3 separate regions of the Homo sapiens genome follow, and all the other regions are linked to region 1. The links come from fine-mapping of genetic effects on gene expression. A gene starts in region 1. Each other region holds a variant in brackets. All regions are shown on one strand. Distances are from middle to middle.

Region 1 (2,757 bases):
CCACCGCCCCACATCGCGCAGGCCCTAGTGGCCTGGATGCTTGCTGCCCCTGGCGAACTGCAGGGAGGCTTTGCCAGAAGCCGCTCCCCTGGGGCCTGAGGGCGCACTCAGGGAGGCCCAGCCCGGGAGGCCCCGGGATCCGCGCCGGGACGCCTCTCTCCTGCCTCATCCCCACTACCAGGGGCCTGACGAAAAGCCTGCGAGGTTGGGGAGAGACCCTGGGGGGCGCCGATCCAGCCACTGGACGCGCACTCACCCCGCATCGCCACGGAGCCCACGCGTCTGCGCCAGGGCTGCGGGAAACCCACGCGCGCTGTTCAATCCGGGCTCCGAGTGACGAAAACCCGCGCTTGGCTCCAGCCGGCCCGGGACCGACGCACCGACTGGCGGACGCGCGGACAGTCTGGCTTCCTAACTAAGTTTGAAAGTTCCCTCTCCGGCGACCGAAGGGGACGCGGACTGCTTAGAGGCACCCAACCCATCCAGGCTGGGCCAGACCCGGCAGTGGGACCTGACGCCTCGGGTTCGGGGTTCCAGGCACGCAAGCCTCCATCACTGGGAATGCGCCCGGCGCAGCGCAGCTGGGACCTGGCTGGGGTGGGGGGATAGATCCTGGAAACATGGAGGAGGGAGGGTGTCCGGCACTACAGCCCCAGCCTGGAGGGACGCCGGCTCACCGCTCCCGGGAGGACACAGGCCTCGATTGGCCGCAGCCTACTCGGAATCCGAGGCCCCGCCAGGCAGTGACGGCCAATTAGTAAACTGCCCAATTAGTGTGCTGCGGCGCTGAGAAGTTAAACCTCGACGCGCGAGTGTGGATGACCGAGGTGTGGCCGTCCCTGGGTGTGACCGCGTGTGACTGTGTGGCCGTCAGGACGATCTGTGTCTGAGGCTCACCGTCCAGGGGGGTGGCTGTGTGTGACAGCGTGCGCCTGGGTGAGGCGTTGTGGCTGCGAGAGTGTGACTGTCGGGCGACTTCTTTGTGTGACTGTCCCCCGTTGTGCCTGGGTGTGACAGCGGGTGGGGGCATGTCACGGTGTGTGGGGCATCGGAGCGTCTGTGGGTGACTCGTCTGTGGCGGTGAGGCTGTTTGCGGGTGAGTGGTTGCGTGTCGTTGTGTATAAGTGACTGTCAGGGTGACTTGCGTGGGACGGCGGGACCGTGTAAGCAGTGCCTGGCCGCCTGCGTGTGGCTGTGGGTCACTGTGACGGCTTGTGAATGACTGCGAGGCTGTCAGGGGGACGCGAGTGAGGGGCCACTGTGTCGTCGCACGGGTGGCTGTCGGGATGACTTCTGCCCGCGATCCCAACAACTCAGGGCGTGAGCGTGGCCGCGAGGGGATCGATGTGAGCCGCCCGTGCCCGTCGGCGGGGCTGATGTGCGCGGCCCCGTGTGACCCCGGGAGCGCCTGAGTCCCGAGCTGCCAGGTGACTCCGGCCCCGCCCGCCGGGGACCCCCGCCCGCCCCCGCCTACCTTGCCGCCGTGGTAATAGTCCAGGTGCGCCAGGCCGGCCGGCTCGGCCCCGGGCCGCGCGCCCACCGCGGGCGCCGAGGGGTACAGGCGGACGTCCATGGCGGGCGCGGCGGCGGCGGCGGCGGCTCCCGCGGGCAGTGCCTGGGCGGGCGGCGGGTGGGAGCCAGTGTGCGAGCGGGACTGCGAGCGCGGGGGGCGGGCCGGGGGCGGTGCCCAGAGGAGCGCCCCGCCCCCGCCCCCGCCCCGCCCGCGCGCGCTATTGTTCCGGCCTCGGGCGCTGCCTAGGGCCGGGGGCCCGGGGGCCCGGGCCGGGGCGTGGAGGTCCTTCCTCCGGGCTGGGCCGCCGCCGGGTCCCCCGCCCGGCCCTGCATCCCTGAGGGGGGCGCGCCTGTCCAGACGGCGCTTTTCCGTCCCGCCTTTCGCCACCCACGGTGAGGAGAGAAGCCCGAACGGCACCCCTCCCCAGAAGTGGGACACTCCCTTGCCCTAAATATTTGAGGCGGCGCTAGTCCCCGCCCCGCGGCGTGGGTGCGGGGGGAAGAGGAAGGTGGTGACAGGACCACTTTGGAGATGGGTGCTGCCTTACCTGGGGGGACGCAGGCCAGCGCCGGAGGATGCTCTTAGCATGCCCGCCCCCTCCTCGTCTCACTGATCTGAGTCAGCTTGACAGCCCCCCCTGGAGATTGCCGCGCTTAAACTCTCACTCACATATGGGGAAACTGAGTCAAAAACTTGCAGCATCAGTAATGGAGCTCCAGGCGGGTGGGCTCCGTTGCCCCCAAAGGATCCAGAGCTGAAACCACTTGGAGAAGGCAGCAGGACCCCACCCCTTTTAATGATAGGGAGGGGAGGGCCGCAGGAATGCCTAGAGCCCGAAGCTCTGAAGAGGGGTCTAGGATCTGCCCACAGTCACGGTCTCTTGGAGTGAGGAAAGGAAGAAAATGAGATTGGAATGGGATGGCTCTGATGGTGGGTCAGAAAGGTGACTGTGAAATGGGGTTCCTCCCCAACCAAAAAAAAAAAAAAAACCCTCTAGTTCTTGATATCACTTGCTGGTTGCTAGACTGTTGCACCCCCATCCCCCTTTTCATGCAAGAATTGTCTACACTAGCAATCTCCCCTAGCAATCTCACTGCTCACTGACTGCTCCAGGTATGTCTGACTGGGAGAGGCCAGGAGGCGAAGTCAGCCAGAATGGCATTCTTGTGTGGCACCAGGATATAGGATGCCATTGGGAGAAAAGGACTTGAGCTTCCTGCCCACTCAGGAGCTAGCTTAGAACT
Region 2 (2,757 bases), 35 kb before region 1:
TTTGTTTTGAGGTGGAGTTTCATTCTTGTTGCCCAGGCTGGATTGCAATGGCACGATCTCAGCTCACTGCAACCTCCGCCTCCTGGGTTCGAGTGATTCTCCTGCCTCAGCCTCCCGAGTAGCTGGGATTACAGGTGTGCGCCACCATACCCGGCTAATTTTTTTGTATTTTTAGTAGATACGGGGTTTCACCATGTTAGCCAGGCTGGTCTTGAACTCCGGTACTCAAGTGATCCACCCGCCTCAGCCTCCCAAAGTGCTGGGATTACAAGCGTGAGCCACCACACCGGCCTATCTACTCTATTTTAAAGGTAGAAAACTCAAATACAGAGAGGTAGACGTGAAGGCTATCTACCTAGGAAGTGGTGGAGCTGGGATTCAAACCCACAGCAATGTGGTTCCAAAGCCAAACTCTTAACTACTGCAAGGGTCCCTCCTGAAAGGGACCACAGGCTTCCAGACCCTTCTCTGGCCCCAGACAGCTATCGCCCTGAAGGTCAGCAGGGGCTTCTGGCCAATGCAGGTCAATCATGGGGCCAGAATCCTTAATGACTACGTGAGCCCATCCCTGGGGCCTGGAGCCCAGAAACAAACCCCCCTCACCCCAAAATCTAGCCTGAACCTCTTCTGATTGCTGGGCTGGTTCTTACTCATGTACTCATGCGTCCGTGCACCAAAAAAGTATTTGCTGTGCATCTACTTTGTGCCAGGCACTATTCTGGGATCCTGGGAGACAGCAGTGAACAAAGACCCCTGGAGTTTACGCTCTTGCATTGGAGATAGAAAACAATACACATAGTCAATAAGTGACTTACATGGTATATGGAAAGAAGAAAGAGTTGAGCAGGTGAGGGGTATTGGGAATGTCGAGATGGAGGGTATGCACGTTTAAACAGAGCAGTCAAGGTGGGCCTCATTGAGGAAGTGATAGTGGAGCCAAGACTGGAAGGAGGTGAGGGAGTGAGCCAAGTAGATGTGTTGGGGAGAGCATTCCAGGGCCTGACAGCCTGTGTACAGGCCCTAAGATGGGAGCTGCCGGCAGGTGTGACCTCGGTCAGCAAAGAGACCAGCAAAGACAGGCAGAGCAAGCAGTGGGGAGGGGGAGGGGAGGCCAGAGAGGCAACTGGGGATGGAGTGTGCCCCACAGATGGCACTGAGATTACCCCTCCCCAGA[A/G]AGAGGAAGCCAGCACTTTTTCCACCGGCCTTATCTGATGCTGTGGTTGGGGAGCCAGCGAGGGCAGGCGAGAGGGCTGCAGAGCTCAGCACATCCGAGGAACCTCAGCAGGGCCTCAGAGCCGCTGACATCCGCTTGGCCTGCGGCTTCTTCCTGTGGCTTCTGCATCTCAGGTTGCCCCGATGGCTGCTATTTTTGCTCCTGTTTGGGGTTCTGTGGTGGGCTCGTCTATGCATTGTTGAGTTTGCTCTGCTCAGAGCAGATGTGAGGGGTTAAACATTCCAAGTGTCTTTGGGAACACTTACAATCCAGCAAGTGGGAAAGAGGAGGATGTTTGTTATACATGTCATCTCGTCAATCCTCGTGACCCTCCAAAGCAGAGAGGCTAGGTGGCTTGTCCAAGGTCACAGCCAAATCAAACCAGTTTGAGGATCCTATTCCAGTCTGTCTAGGTCTGAAGGCCCTTAATTTGCAGGGAGGTCTTTTGCATCTACTGCCTAAATTAACATTTCTGTGCTGTCTGGCCTTGCAGCACGTGTGAGAATAAAGGTGCATCATCGTGGGTGATGTCCTCCCAGAGCATCACAGCACTGATGGGGAGGACAATGACAGAAGCGGGCACAGGGAAGGGGACCCTGGCTCTGATAGTTGCGGCTAGACGGTGGGGGCAATCAGAGAAGGCTTCTGGAAAGCCGTGGATGTCGTGACCACACCTGCGAGAATAAACAGGAGTCCAAGGGGTAAAAGAACCATTCCAGACAAAGGGGTCTGAAAGTAAAATTAAGAGGCACAATAGCTTGGTCAGTGGGGAAGCGGATTTAGGAGGTGGCAGGACAGTGATTCTGCAGGAGGCAGAAGCTAGCTTGTGGACTGCAAAAAGTGAGATCAGACAGGTGCCCAGCTCCCCCAGGTGGGTATATTAAAGGTATCAGAACAGATCCAGCTGATTACAAAAGACAACCAACCACAGGCTTTAAGCAGGGAGGGATGTGCGCATCAGGTGGTTCTCAGAGATCCCACTGGCTGCTGCGAGAAGAACAGACTAAGGAGGAAGGGTGGAGGCAGGGAGGCCTGGGAGGAGGCTCCTGCGGTCATCCCGGTGACAAGTAATAGTGAAGCGGGGAGAAGTCATTGCACCCTGAAGGTACAGCCAGCAGCAAGTGCAGTTGGATTAGATGCAAGGAGTAAGGCAGAGAAAGGGGTCAAAGATGATCCCACATTTGTGGCCTAAGCCGAGGGGTGGACAGTCATATATAAAAAGTGGGCACAAAGTAGAAGGGGCATTTTGAGGTGACGGAGGGTGTGAATCAGGAAAAGGGCCATTGAGAGTAACTGTTTCCTTCTAGATGAGCCCCTGGGGTGAGGACATGCAAATCAAAGCTGCCTTTCTACACCAATCCCCCCATGACTAGGGGGCTGCTGCTCCCATGGCCTCAATTGCTCTTCACAGCAAGGAAGACCCAGGGAGGTTAAGTGAGCTGCCTCAAGCCTCACAACTAGAAGTCAAGAGACCAAAGGCTAAAAATCCAGGTCCACCCAATTGCTACTCCAGGCTCATCTCAACACCCAACAGCAGGAGGTTC
Region 3 (2,757 bases), 30 kb before region 1:
CAACAAGCCCCGCCCCCAACCCAGTCAACTCCCATCACCAAGATAGCCTCCCAGGCACAGCTGGGATGGCCCCTTCACGTTAGGTTTCTGCATTTGAAATCTCTGCCACCTATTAAGGGCATGTGTGTCCCCTTAAGTCCCCTTAGTTCCTTTCTCATTTGTTGCTGTCCTTTCTTCTACGAAAGTATGCTGCGTAGAGATCCCAACTGGTTATTTTTTAATGTCCTTACTTCACAAACGGAAAAGGTGGCATTCACCAAATTTGGCAAGAAATTTTTATTGATTCCCCAAACTCCAAAATCTAGTGGAAGAGGCAGCTCGGGTATTCCTGGTGACGTCCTCAGCTGCTTCTCACCCGTCTTGCCTTCTTGGAAGGCCCCTGTCACTCTTCAGCCCAGGTATCTTCTGGGCTCCTCCCAAGCCATGGGCCATCCCCATTACTGCTCCCATTGTTTCCAGTCTGAATCAGCCAGACCCCCCAACCCACACCTGGCCAGGCCTACTGCAGGGTGTGCTGAATGAATGAATGAATGAATGAATGATCCTGAGCAGCCTGGGCACCAAGGCCACAGCCTGACCCTGCTCTCCAGAGGACAGCCCAAACCGCCTCCAGAATTCCTCTCCAAGAAGGAGCTGCCAACTGCAGGCCTCCTGGCCCCTCTAAAGCATCTTCATTCCAGAATGTGACAAGCACCAGTCCAGGTCCCTGCCTGCCCCCATCCAGACATCACCTATCTTCAGCCCACAGTGACGGCCTGACCACCTCCACCTCATGGGGCGGTGGGCACCCGCTGCTTACCTTCTGCGGAAACACACCTGCAATGCACCAGTGTCTTGCAAGTAGAAGGAGCCCGAGTCTCATTCCACAGAAGCCCAGGCAGCGAGAGAACGCGCCCGCGACAGCCTCTGTGCGAGTCTGCTGCATAATCAGCAGAGAAAGAGGAAAAAATGCCAGAAATAGCAAGCTTTATAAGCCCTCCTGACAACTCTTGGTCCTCTATTGGCTGGAGGCCCAGCACCCCCACCCCCCATCCC[A/G]TTCGTATAAGGTGAAATGGAAAAACCTGTTATTTAACCTCTTTTATCAAAATCCATCTCCTATTCCAATTTGGGCCTGCGTGTTCGGAGCTCCTGGTGGCGGTCTCCACGCCAGGTCTCGGGGAGCAGAAGGGGAGGCAGCCCCTAAGTACAGCGCGGCTCCACGTCATTTGTGGCTTAAGAGCCTTCCCCACTCACACACGCTGCCTTGGGAGGGGTGTTGCACTGGAAGAGCCTTCGGAAGGCAAATTGGCAGCACCTGTCAACGTGTGAAACTTGCATGCCCTTTCATTCAGCAATTAGACTTCTGAGCATCCATCCTGCAGAAATACCTGTACTCAGTGCATGGATGCATGCCCAAGGATGTTGCTTGTTACAGAGAGAATTAGAGACAGCTAAATGTCGAAAGCCAGGGTCTGGTTGAATACACTGAAATACATCTGATGGAATGAGGAAGGTGTGTAGGTACTGACTTGGAACTGCCTGCAAGAAAAAGTCAAGGACATGGTTCCATTTTTATAAAAACAATAACGGTGTATATGTATGTGTTTGAACATGCACTATAAAAGATACCAGGCTGTTAATAGCAGTTACACTAGGGAGGAGGAGATATTTTCAGTGGCTGCTTTTTTCTTTCTTGTTTCATTTTTTTTTTCTTTACCACAAGCGTGTATTACATTTGTAATTTAAAACAAAAAAATAAGAACCTCCCCTGGTTCCTTTCCACTCTTCTGAAGCCATCAGGCCAAAGGCCAAGGTCACCCACCACAAGCCTTGATCGGGCTTGGGATAAAGCTGGCCCCGGGCACTAAGGATTAACCAGCAGTCTCTCATTAGCTTTCGCACAAATGCAGTTAAACTAGGGCTCCATGAAGAAGGCAGACTTTGAAATAAGACAGAGCTGGGTTCGAATCCTAGCTCTGCCTGCTGGAATGGCTAACTTCCCTGAGCCTCAGTTTCTTCACCTGTAAAATGGGGATAATAGTACCTATTAAGTGTCATGTACTATGCCAGGTGCTATTAAACTAATTTTAATTTTTTGGACATTTCAGTAGCAGCAAAGGCTGCTGAGGAAGCACCACAGAGCTGAGAGGATCCAGACTAAGCAGGAAGCGCTCTGGGGAATCATCCTATTCCTGAACACTTGTAACAATACTAAAGTAAGTGACAGAGAGAACGGCCTGGGAATAGCAAATGTCATGTGATAAAGGGGGCTGGTGCCCAGCGTGTCTGCAGGAGGAGGGAGAGGCTGGAAGGGGGATTACAAAAGGCTCCAGAAAGGAAAAAAGTCTTGCTTCCCTGCCTCTGTACCTTTTTCATGCTGTTCCCTCTGCCTGGAATGCTCTTCCCCTGACCTTCACACAACTGACTGCTTCTCATCCTTCCAGCTCTGCTCAAAGATCTCCTTCTTCCCCAAAGAGAGCTCCTCTAATCTCACCTGCACCTGAGTTACTTTGTCCATAGCACACTCCTGCAGCCAATCGTTTCTGTTCATGTGTTTGATGGCTTTTGTTTCTGTGTTTATTGTTCTTCTCTAGGCTCTGAGCTTCTTGATGGTCAGGATCGTCTGTCTTGCTCATCTCTGGGTCCTGGCTCCCAGCATGGGGCCTGACACACAGTGCGTGCTCACCAGATAGAAAGTGCACACAACCCATAGATCCAAGGCACATGACACTCGTCTCAAGGCAAAAGAGAGGTGCATTTTGCACCGCGATACAAAGA

The links. PIP is the estimated chance that this variant, and not a neighbour inherited with it, causes the effect.
Region 2: its variant is fine-mapped to the expression of TOX2 in whole blood (INTERVAL, PIP 0.97).
Region 3: its variant is fine-mapped to the expression of TOX2 in whole blood (INTERVAL, PIP 0.91).

What each region holds. Positions count from the first base shown.
Region 1 is chr20:43,913,708-43,916,464 of GRCh38, reverse strand. TOX2 (TOX high mobility group box family member 2) reads right to left here and starts at 1,613. Exons shown (of 9, transcript NM_001098797.2): 1 at 1,475-1,613. The coding sequence starts at 1,573. RefSeq lists silencers at 133-182, 243-302, 1,373-1,462, 1,513-1,622, 1,643-1,742 and 1 more and enhancers at 441-1,158, 1,159-1,876.
Region 2 is chr20:43,948,829-43,951,585 of GRCh38, reverse strand. All of the region lies in intron 1 of TOX2 (TOX high mobility group box family member 2), which reads right to left. Among named protein-coding and RNA genes, the nearest start is that of TOX2, 35 kb to the right of the region's middle. RefSeq lists an enhancer at 922-1,011. The variant A/G (reference allele first, on the strand shown) is at 1,175.
Region 3 is chr20:43,944,081-43,946,837 of GRCh38, reverse strand. All of the region lies in intron 1 of TOX2 (TOX high mobility group box family member 2), which reads right to left. Among named protein-coding and RNA genes, the nearest start is that of TOX2, 31 kb to the right of the region's middle. The variant A/G (reference allele first, on the strand shown) is at 1,036.